Homo sapiens: one gene and its partners. The main gene of each other region encodes a partner of the protein of the gene in region 2 in a complex. Each region holds a gene or a part of one and is shown on either strand. Other genes may lie near its edges.

The links.
Region 1: the proteins of PAK4 (region 2) and ITGB5 are in contact, whole or in part, in a crystal structure (PDB 7S46), measured with the Homo sapiens proteins. Residues at the interface, in NP_001014831.1 of Homo sapiens: Gly330, Ser331, Gln358, Arg359, Leu362, Thr404, Lys442, Ser443, Asp444, Asp458, Phe461, Leu475, Val476, Gly477, Thr478, Pro479, Tyr480, Trp481, Met482, Glu507, Glu512, Phe516, Asn517, Glu518, Pro519, Pro520, Met524; in NP_002204.2 of Homo sapiens: Ser762, Arg763, Ala764, Arg765, Tyr766, Glu767, Met768, Ala769, Ser770.
Region 3: the proteins of PAK4 (region 2) and CTNNB1 are in contact, whole or in part, in a crystal structure (PDB 6WLX), measured with the Homo sapiens proteins. Residues at the interface, in NP_001014831.1 of Homo sapiens: Ser331, Gln358, Thr404, Asp440, Lys442, Ser443, Asp444, Phe461, Leu475, Val476, Gly477, Thr478, Pro479, Tyr480, Trp481, Met482, Glu507, Phe516; in NP_001091679.1 of Homo sapiens: Lys672, Arg673, Leu674, Ser675, Val676.

What each region holds. Positions count from the first base shown.
Region 1 is NC_000003.12:124,796,665-124,800,409, forward strand, and holds part of ITGB5 (integrin beta-5 isoform a precursor), read right to left. Parts: intron 154-3,745; coding exon 1-153.
Region 2 is NC_000019.10:39,123,855-39,127,599, reverse strand, and holds the start of PAK4 (serine/threonine-protein kinase PAK 4), read right to left. Parts: upstream 1,815-3,745; 5' UTR 1,681-1,814; intron 1-1,680. UniProt on the Homo sapiens protein: Serine/threonine-protein kinase that plays a role in a variety of different signaling pathways including cytoskeleton regulation, cell adhesion turnover, cell migration, growth, proliferation or cell survival.
Region 3 is NC_000003.12:41,197,119-41,200,863, reverse strand, and holds the start of CTNNB1 (catenin beta-1), read right to left. Parts: upstream 1,360-3,745; 5' UTR 1,194-1,359; intron 1,143-1,193; exon of another isoform or gene 1,057-1,142; intron 722-1,056; exon of another isoform or gene 483-721; intron 474-482; exon of another isoform or gene 1-473. UniProt on the Homo sapiens protein: Key downstream component of the canonical Wnt signaling pathway.

The DNA of each region.
Region 1 (3,745 bases), on a different chromosome or scaffold from region 2:
GTTGGGTTCCAGCCCCACGCTGCAGCCGCACGTGCAGTTGTAGGTGACCCCCACCTCCAGGCTGTCCCGGAATCCCACCGGCCGCAGGGCAAACACATGCTCCGTGTGTCTGCTGGGACAGCTTCGGGCCTCCAATGATACTTCAAAAGATGCCTGGGCAGAAGGAAGAGAAGGGATATCATGGCTGCGGCAAGCCAGGGTCTCCCATTCACCCAGGGGCAGGGCCCTTGATGAAGAGCAGCTGCGAACTCCAGCCCTCTCCACGCACTCAGGTAGAACCACCAAGATGGCCGGAGTAGGAAGAGACCTCAGAACCAGCAAGCTCCCATGCTTCATGGAGAAGAGAATGCACAGGTGAGCTCACATTTGACAGGTGAATTCTTTAACATTCATTATCTCTTTGCATCCCCATGACCCTGAGGAAATGGGCCCCTGCGGAAAGCTATAGGGCTTCCTTGAGTTCACACAGTTCTTATTCTCCCTTTCTTTTCTCTTCTGTCCTATCCTCTTCCCAGCCCCGCTGCAGATGCCTCTTCTCTGCTCACTTAAAAAGTCATTTGGTGGAAAAACATTTCCTGGGCGCTGCCTCTGTGCCAGGCACAATGGCACTCTCACAGGGTGCCGGGTGAAGGGCACCCACCTGGCCCGCCATAGAGAGGGCTCTGTGCCTGCTGGCAAAGGGCTCAGCTGACTCCAGAGCTTGCTCTCCAGACACCCCCGAGTCCCCCGTGCCCCAATTCCTCCTCTGTGAGTGCTTGTCATAGCTGCATCTTTCACAATCCCCCCATGCCCCTGAGGTCTTAAAGAAGAGTCTCCAACTGATGAAATGCACCATGCACATGGACAGACCTTTTCTTTTTAAACAGAATATGTAAGGAAGTGTTTCTCACTCAGGAGCTTCTCACAGATTGCCTTGAAAACAGGCTCAAGGTGGGCCTGGATGGGTGGCAGATGGTGCGGGAGGGATGCCTGTCAGCTGCCCACAGGGCTGGGATGGAAGGAAAGCAAGAATGAGGCTTGGTCTGATTCAGGAACTAGAGCCTGACTCCCCCACCCTCTCCTCCTCACCCCCCTGAGGAGAGCCATGTGGGGTCTGAATCACCCATCAGGGCCCTGAGAGCAAGTCACTGTGGATTCTATGAAAACGCACAGACAGGTGGCCAGTGTGCCCTGATGAAATGCCGTTGTAAAGTTTTACTCAGGGGTGGGTTCTCCCTTACTCCCTGAACAGACAGAGGCCCGGCCCACCCCACAAACAGACTCACTGGATCTGGGTCCAAATGTCTTTATTTTTCAAAAGGCTCCTCAGATCATTCTGAAGCTCAGAATGGGTTAAAAACCACTTTCAGCTATTACTATTCTTAATTCTATTCTTTCGGCTAGAATAAAGCTTTTTTTTTTTTTTTTGAGGTGGAGTCTCGCTCTGTTGCCAGGCTGGAGTGCGGTGGCATGCACTCAGCTCACTGCAATCTCCACCTCCCGGGTTCAAGCCATTCTCCTGCCTCAGCCTCCAGAGTAGCTGGGATTACAGGTGCGCGCCACCACACGCAGCTAATTTTTGTATTTTTAGTAGAGATGGGGTTTCACCATGTTGGCCAGGATGGTCTCCATCTCCTGACCTCGTGATCTGCCCACTTCGGCCTCCCAAAGTGCTGGGATTACAGGTGTGAGCTACTGCGCCCAGTCATTAAAGCTAATTTTTAAAATGTCATCATTCACTTGATTTACTGGACAATCTTCAGGTAACAATGTTTTTGTTGTTGTTGTTGTTGTTTGAGACAGAGTCTCTCTGTCACCCAGGCTGGAGTGCAGTGGCACCATCTCGGCTCACTGCAGCCTCTGCCTCCCAGGTGCAAGCGATTTTCCCATCTCAGCCTCTCAAATAGCTGGGATTACAGGTGCCTGTCACCATGCCTGGCTAATTTTTGTAGTTTTGGTAGAGACGGAGATGGGGTTTCACTGTGTTGGCCAGGCTGGTCTCAAACTGCTGACCTGAAGTGATCCACCCGCCTTGGCTTCCCAAAATGTTGGGATTACAGGCGTGAGCCACTGCGCCCGGCCCACGATGTTCATTTTTTGAGAACATTATAAATATCTGTTTCTAAACATACAGATCCCTATTACTTTGAGATTTTTACTGGTTCTAAAAGGCCTCCCCTCAGATGCTGTGACATCTAGGGACACGGGGAGAGGGGAGAGGGTATGGGACTGAGCAGGAGGATAGATCCTGCTCTATAAGTCCTGCAGAAAGTCCTGCGTGGCAGCAAACTGCTGTTTCAAAGGACTTGACAACAGACACCCAGGACTCAGCATTAGCCAAGAGGCTCAACAGGAGAGGCTTCTGGATAGGTGAGCTGAGGATAGCTAGGGGAGCAGGATCAGAAGACACTCGGGGGACCAGGCCAGCTGCAGACAGCTTGGGCTAGCTCCACCTTACCTTCCATCTCTGTGGGGTAGGAAGAGTAGGAAGAGACAAAGGGGAGAGATTGACAAAAACAACTCCAAGGCTAAGTTCCAAGGTCTCGAGGTACAGGGAGTCTCTCAAGGTGAGTAAAGATTCAATCCACTTGGACACTGAAATTGGTTAAAGGATAACACGAATAGGATGGGCGTAGTGGCTCACACCTGTAATTCCAGCCCTTTGGGAGGCTGAGGTGGGCAGACTGGGAGGATCACTTGAGGCCAGGAGTTCGAGACCAACCTGGACAACATGGCAAAACCCCATCTCTACCAAAAGTACAAAAAATTAGCCGGGCATTTTGGCACATGCCAGTGGTCCCAGCTACTCAGAAGGCTGAGGTGGGAGGATGGCTTGAGCCCGGGAGGGGGAGGTTGCAGTGAGCCGTGATCGTGTCACTGCACTCCAGCCTGGACGACAGAGTGAGATCTTGTCTCAAAAAGAAAAAAAAAGCAAAACAAAACACTAATAATTATTAGTTGCCAAGTGCCTACTATGTACCAGGCACTGTGCTGGACTTTTCCACAAGCATCTCTTTTAAATGCCCTAGAAGGAAGTGTCCTCATTTTACCAGAGAGAAAACAGGGTTGGCGGGGTTGGTGGATTTAGTCATGCTCACACAGCTGATGAGTGGGGCCAGGCCTAGAGCAGGGCCCGCGCTCTCCTTAGCATATCCACCTCCTAGACGGGGGAATGAGGTCTACCTCATCGGGGTGCGCAGGGAGAGCCAGCCTGGCTTACTAAAGGGACCCCTTGATGGTGATCCCCAAAGTGGTGGCCAGAGGCATCTCCACATCTTTCTGCCGTGGGCTGGGAACGATTTGAGCCTGCAGATAGGATAAGAGTGGGGACTATGCCTGCCCGAAGCCACCCGTGGGGCCATCAAGAATGCAGAGGTGAATGGAGCTTTGAGGGGCAGATGCCATCCCTCCCTTCTGAGGCCCAGAGAGAAACTTGCTTGCATCTCCTATTACTATTTGCTTGAAGCTCCCACAACAGTGACATGCTTGAAGCTACCTGTAGCTTGCTTCAAGTTACAGCTGAAACCCTGTACTTCTAGGGCTACAACTTGCTGGACTTGTGCTCCACAGAGGCATCTGCGGGTCAGAAACTGAATAAACTACAGAGGAATGACCTGGACCAAGAGCCAAAGGCATTTAATTATTGAAAGACTGTGGGGAGTACACACCTGTGAGTATAACCTTGTCTCATGGAAACTTGCCTGCCTTGGGGTTAAAGCAATGAAAGTGAGAGTTAAGTCTCCAGAATCTTGCTGATGTGTCTGGG
Region 2 (3,745 bases):
GCCCAACAGTCAACCCCCAGCAATGTCACATCCTCTGCAGGCCAGGCAGGGCTTCAGTGGGGACCGAGGCAAGGAACCCCACAGAGCAATTCCACCATGCACCCTAATAATTAAGGTAAGGAGGGAGGTAAGGGCTGGTCAGATGAGAGAAAAAGAGCCTGCAGCAAGGCGAGCCAGGGTGGTCCCGGGCCAGCTGAGAGTGAGCGACCCGTCAGTGAGAGAGGGCAGGGTGGGGAAAGGATTCCCAGCAGAAGGAACAGGAAGGTCAAAGACCGGGCGGGAGGCATGGGCCTGGAGTTGGAGAACAGTAAAGGGGCTGGGGAGAAATGGGCAGAGCCATAAGAAGTGAGGTGGGAGTGACTAAGGACCACAGTGAGAGCTTAGGGTTTTAAGAACAGTGAACACCCCGCTCTGCCCAGGGTACCACCCAGGGACACTCTCCCCAGTCAGAAGCCCGTCGGACTCCCTTGCTCGGACTCCAGACCACCTACAAACACCCTACTCCCATAGGCTCACAGGAATCTTCCCTGCCAGATCACACCCTTCCAAGGAAACCAAGCAGACAATCCGATCCGCCCAGGGAGTGGCCCAGCCCTGCCCAGCCCCCTGCTTCCAGGAGAGACCTAATGGCTGGCAGCGGACAATGTGGCGACCAGGGGCAGGAGCCCTGGAATCACCCAGGCCCAGCTTCGATTCTAACTCTGCCTTCAGCAGAAGCTTCTGAGCCTCATTTTTCCCGTCTGTAAAGTAGGTTCATCTTGAGCACTCACTTCACAAGATTGCAGCAGGAGTGAAATACGACCGGGCACACAGGGCGTGGAGCACAGTGTGAGCCCTCATTAAACATTAACCGACATTATGATGATTTGAGAGGCGGTCGGCCAGAGCAGGGCTCTGGGCCAGAACTCCGGAGTTAGAATCCCAGCGCACAACTTATGCATCGGGTGACCTTGTGCAAATCACTTAACCTCTTAATACCAGGTTAAGACCCCCTAAGACTATAGTGAGGACTGAATAAGCTCATACAAGTAAAGCGTTAAAAAGAGGGTCTAGCCCATAGTGTTTCATGAGTGTTTGCCATTATTATTTGTGGGAGGGTTCCCCCTTCTCCTGTCACCAGGAAGCATCTCTGACCCGGCCCCCCCCCCCCCCCCCGTCCCCCGCAATACGCCCTCCTTGGGTTTTAATTTTTGACTCTGGGAAACAGCTGCCCCGCTGTCAGATTCTCACCTTTGTACCTTCTAGGCACGCCCCAGCTTTGAACCCCTAAAAGACGCCCCCGAACCTAAAACTCATTCATCTGCTCCGCTAGGGGCAGCTTTAAACCTCCAACCTGGCGCCCCTGGGGCTGTGACCTCTGACCCTCGTGGGGGCAGCCTTCCCTCAAATTATTAACTTTGACCCTGCCTTTTTTGAGACTCGCCCAGAACCCCTCGAACGCGCCCCCACTTCGAATTTCAAACTTTGCACTCCCCTTCGCCACGCCCCCTTCGCTGGTTTGATCTCCGACCTCCACTACAACTCCCTCCAGTCTGCGTTAACCCCCGACCCCTCGGACGCGACCCTTCCCTCCACCAGTGACCTTTGACCCCGGCGGCCCCGCCCCCCTCCTCGCGGAAACGCCGTCCCGCCGCCAGCGCCCGGCCCACCGCAAGCCCCTGGCCGGACCCCTTATCCTACCGGCTCGGCGCCGCAGTCGCTCGCGGCCTAACTGCTCGACCTGGAACTCCGCGCCCTCGCGCCTCCCTCAGCTCTCTTGCACCGCCACCACCGCGGACACTCCCGCCGCCATGTTGAATCCCCAACGAACATCCGGGGCTTTCCCCCCTCACCGCCCACCAGTCCCCATAGCAACGAGGCTGACCGGGCAGTGGGCAGGGCCAGTGCGGGGGCGGAGTCGGGCGCCTCTCAGGGCCCGCTCCAGCCTCCGATTGGTACAGAGCGTCCAATCGGAGACCTTCGGGCAGAAAATGCCAAGCGGGGATTGGAAATTTTGGAAAAGGTGCGGGAAGGCTGGCTCCCGGCCCACTGAGGTCCTTAAAGGGGAAATGACTGTTTTCGTGTGATACCGATTTTCTAACTTCCCCCCCAGAAGGAGTTAGGGGCTGGGAGAAAGTAATGAGTTAATGGGCAGAAACAGTTCTTAAGCACTTACTAGGAGGCAGGCACCGGGATAAGTGTTTTACTTGCATTTTCTCGCTGCATATACAACCCTGTGGTATAATATCATTAATACCCATTTTACAGATAAAGAAACAGAGGTTCAGAGGGTGAAATAGCTGGCTTAGCATCATAGAAAGAAGGTAATGAGTTTTGAACGCTGGTCTGTCTGAGCCCGGGAACCTGAGACTGTTTGCTCTTCAATTTTTAAATAAGTTTTTACGAAGTAATTGGTCAAAATATTGAAAACAAACAGCAGACATCTTCTTTAAAAATTTTTTTAAATTTTATTTTTACTTATTTATTTGTCTTGAGATAGAGTTTCGCTCTTGTTGCCCAGGCTGGAGTGCAATGGCGCGATCTCAGCTCACTGCAACCTCCGCCTCCCGGGTTCAAGAGATTCTCCTGCCTCAGCCTCCTGAGTAGCTGGAATTACAGGCGTCCACCACCACACCCAGCTAATTTTTTGTATTTTTAGTAGAGACAGCGTTTCACCATGTTGGCCAGGTCGAACTCCTGACCTCAGGTGATCTATCCGCCTCGGCCTCCCAGAGTGCTGGGATTACACGTGTGAGCCACCAAGCTGGCCTTTTTCTTTTATTTTTAAAGAGAGAGTTTTGTTGTGTTGGCCAGGCTGGTCTCGAACTCCTGGGCTCAAACTATACTCCTGCCTCGGCCTCCCAAAGTGCTGGGATTGCAGGCGTGAGCCACTGCGCCCGGCCAGACATCTCTCCTCCTGGATCTTATTCACTGGACTCCAGCCTTCATGCTGTTCCTGAACTCTTGTCAGGTGCGCTCTCACCTCACAGTCTTTGCACTGGTTGTTCCTCTGCCTGGAACATACTCTTCCCCCAGGTATCCTTATCTCTCCCTCCCTTTTTTCAGGGCTTTACACAGATGTCACTTTCTCTGTGAACTAATTCCCTCGCTCACCCTAAGGAAAGCAGCAAACATCCCTCTCACATACTACCAAACTCTGTCTGCTTTGTTCTTATTTCTCACTCCTAATTGTAGTTATTGCTTGTTGGTTGTCTCCTCTGCTGGAATGTCAGCCCCATGACAACATGGATTTCTGTCTTTGTTCACTGCTGCATTCCCAGTGCCCCAGCACTGTTGGCATGTAGATGCTCAGTAAACATTGGTGGAAGGGCTGTTTGAATGCGTGGTAATTCCACCCCTTCAGAGATACTCTTAAATGTTTGGTGCTTCTCCTCTGCCCCAGAACAGCCACATAGTAGGCATTTAATTAATTTCTACTAATGTCGGTGGCAACAATGAATGAATGATTGAATGATGAGTTAATTTTTCTTTATGTTTACCTATCTTTTTTCTTTTTATTTGTTCATTCGTTTTTTTTTTTGTTTGTTTTGTTTTTTGTTTTTTTTTTTTTTTTTAGATAGGGGTCTTACTCTGTCGCCCAGGCGGGATTGCAGTCTGAAACTCCTGGGCTCAAGTGATCCTTCCAACCTAGCCTCTCAAGTAGCTGGGACTATAGGCATAAGCCACCACACCGGCTAATTTTCTTTCTTTCTTTCTTTTTCTTTCTTTCTTTCTCTTTCTTTCCTTCCTTCCTTCCTTCCTTCTT
Region 3 (3,745 bases), on a different chromosome or scaffold from region 2:
TGGAAGATACAAAGTAGGAGACAACGCTCCCTCCAAAAGGGAAGAGAACGAAGGCAACAACTACATACACCCAACTGCCAAAGCTTTCAAGCTTGGCAGATTCAGAAGCAGGCTATAGGAACTTAACTTCGAAAAGTCTCGGTTCAAAGTCCTCTCTCCAGACAAAACACTGAAAGAAGTTGCAATGCTTGAATTCCATTTGGCCAGCTTTGGAGCGAAGGAAAAATTCACTCCGCTGAAAAGAAAACGTGCTCTATAATTCAATTTTAGCTGCCATCAAACTATTTGAATAAATTTAAATTATTTCTACGAACAAAATTCTCGAAGCGGTCTGAGTCAGAGGCTGAATCCTGCAGTTCACTTGGTAAGAAACAGTAAGCCATCACCTTCGCCTTCCTCCACCCCCTTATTTCACCAGGGTCTCATACCCACTACCATAAATCCATAAGACTCCCAGTACATTATCCACTGCTTTCACTCACCTGCATAGTACGCTAAAATACAGGTGCAAGACATGGATTTTTTATGTGCTCACCCTACTGACGCATCGCACCCGCTGCACTTAGAGTTTAGTTGCTCTAAGGTTTAAAGTTGCTTCGATTCAAACTCACATAGCCAGGGCATTAAAAAAAATAATAACACTTCTATTCTTAAGAATGAAAGAGGAAATCTTAAGAGAAAGTCCACTGGTCCGATCCCCAGGACTGATGGGACTTAGGGTGGCGTCTCTGCCTCAGCGCCCGAACCCCAACTCGCCGCAAGAGCTGAGAAGGCGGAGCCCCCCGTCCCCACCCCGCCCCCCACCCAGGGCCCGGCGCATCCCGAGGCACCGGGTCCCTCCCCCAAACTCGGCCAAGGCCAGAGCCCCGGACGGAAACCACAGACCCCCACCCCCACCCCCACCCCGCCTGCCATCCGGGCTCCTGTACGCGCCCCCGCGGCGCCCCCTCCCCGCAAGCGATGCCCCCAGGGCCCCAGAGAGGCAGCGCGACCGGAACCCGGGCCCGGCCGCCGCCCTCCGCGCCCCGGGCGCGGCCCACCCTCACCGTCCCCCACCTGAGCTCCCCGCTCCCAACCCCAGGCCTCCCGGCTGCGCCCAGCCCGCCGCCCGGACCGCGCGCCTGCTACGAAGTTTGGCTCCGAGAGGAAGCGGGAGCAGCCCCGGAAGGATAAGGAAAGGAGCGCCCAAGCACCTCAGGGGAACAGGCTCCTCCCGCCGCGGGAGTCCGACCGTCCTCGACCTGCGGTGGCGGCTCGGCGGGGACTGAAGCTGCTCCTCAGACCTTCCTCCGTCTCCGCCTCCCCTCGCTCTCCGCTCCCGGGGCCGGGCCAACGCTGCTGCCACAGACCGAGAGGCTTAAAATGGCGCCGCACAAGGAGCTCTTATAAGTCGCGCAGAAGCCGCTGTATCCTGCCGCCACCGGCGCAGCGCGGAGCGTTCCGCCGCGCGAGGACAAGGGGCGGGGCGCGAGGGGGCGGTGGAAAGTAGTCCCCGCGCCGCCCAGCAGTCTGCTGCCGTCTGAGCGCCCCGGGCCGGGGTGGGGTGCCTGGGCACCCCACGGACGCTCCCCGGGGTGACGGCTGGCGGCTGCCCGCTGCGCGGCCTGAGGGCAGCCCGTGAGGGCGCTGTGGTCTGCATCGGGGAGGCCGGGCCCCCGCGGCCTGGGTTGGGGAAGGTGGCCCTGGTATCCTCCCCTGTCCCAAGCCCGACGCCCCCGCCCCGCGCGTTTCCCGAACCGGGAGAGCAGCTGCAGGACTCGGCGCGCCTTTCCCGCGGCCTGCGGAAGGTGGCATCTCGGCCCCGGCCTTCGAGTACCGCTCGGGGCGGCCGGGACAGGTCCTGGGAGGGCGGAAGTTCGGGGCCAGGGCGGCGGCAGGGGCTCGGGTTCAGCGCCCGCCCGTCTTGGGGCGCTCCTGGCCCCGCAGCTGCCCCGTCGCTGGTCTGCGGGTTCCCGGCCGGGCGCGGGTTAGGGGGCCTCGCCGACCTTGTGGTCTGTGCCGCACACTCCCTGCTGGACCTGGGTCGCAGCCCAGTCTCACAGCACCCCCAAAGCCCCCCACTGTCCGGATGGTGGATCCCACCTCTCAGCAGGCTGTTCAGCTTGAATTTCGACCTGAATCACCGGGCCGAGCCGCCTTCTGTCCCCACTCACGAAGGCTGTGAACTCTCCGTAGAACGGGCGCCAAGCCCGCAATTCAACAAGTCCTTAGGAGTACCTACTGTGAACAAATAACTAATGGAAATGGATTAGCTCCAGAGCGCTGTCAATTAGGTTAATTCTTATAGATTCCATTTTTATCTGGTTCCACTTGTCACTAGGTATCAATAGATTTATTTGTGGGGATTTTTCTTTGGAGAAGAAGATTTTTACGGTATTACTTATTTGTGAAATCCAAGTATGTTTATAGAGAAAGCTATCGATTAAGCAGCCTCCAATTTTTTAACTAATTTTCTATTTAAAAACGTTTGTAATTCATTTCAATAGACTGAAAAATGTTTCCCATTCTAATGCAGCAAAATTGACGTTTGTCGAAGCTGCAACAAGTATGATCGATTCAGTTTCTCTAGGCTATTGTTTGTGCTTATTTTTCCTCCAAAACATTGGAGAGAGTACAAAAAGCAGCAGTGAAAGTTACCTCTGTGCTTTTATCCCAGGACTACAATTAATACAAGCAAACAATAGGTCTTAACACATAGATGCAGGCGGAAAACCCACTTATTCATTCACTCATGGAGGTAGGATATGTAGTTTAAGGCACAGCTCATGTTTCAGGGCCAGCGTATTCTTTAAATAACTTTTATTTTTGTCTTAAAGATATTTTACTATATAAGTGGTAATGCCAACTGCCGTCTGTCACCATAGCACATGTGGGCCACTGCAGTGGAAAAAGTCTACACACTAAGATGATGTTCAGTGAGATCCATTGTCTAGAAAGACCTTCTCATTTGTATCTTTCCTACTAATTCTGTAGAATCTAAGTGTAGCTATTGGTTGTGGTCACAATTCAAAAAGATTGAACCGAAAAAGGTATTTCATCAAAACCGTGTTTCTAATATAAACTCAAAAGTATAAATGGCGTTTTCAGGTACTGATTCCTAATTTTAATTGTCATTTGCAGAATTAAGGAATATGCAATTGATTAAAGTCATACATTGAAAATCAGACGACAGATTAACCACTTTTACAGGGCTTTTTTTAAAAAAACATGTTTGCTTTTTCTATGTGCAGGTTTTTTGTTTTTGAATAAGGCACTCTTGAAATTGGTTAAGAAATATCTGCACCATTAGAAGATCTAAAGGATAAAAACGTTTCTATATTTGTATTTCTCTGTTCCATTACCAAAATAATGGAATCATTTTTCTATAATTTAAATACTTTAAATTTAGAATTATGATTTTTAATCCCTACTGACACCGTAAACAAATACATTTTATTAAAGAAAATGTAAAATTTGCAACAATGCAGCATGCTGTTTTTCCCATCATATTAAGTGTACTGAAGAATTACTGGTTGACTAGCATTAAACCAAGTTAGTTAAATTTAACATTGCTCCTAATTTTTATTTGCATGTTTCATAAAGCAGAAATTGTTCTAGTTGTCTCACCAAAAATAAGAGATGAATAACTTCTGTGAAATGAAGACAAACACTATCATTAAATCAAAGAAAAATACATTATCAAGATACATGAGTTTGGTAAAATAAGTAATTTTGTTAAATAATTTTTTTGAATTGACCTTGGACA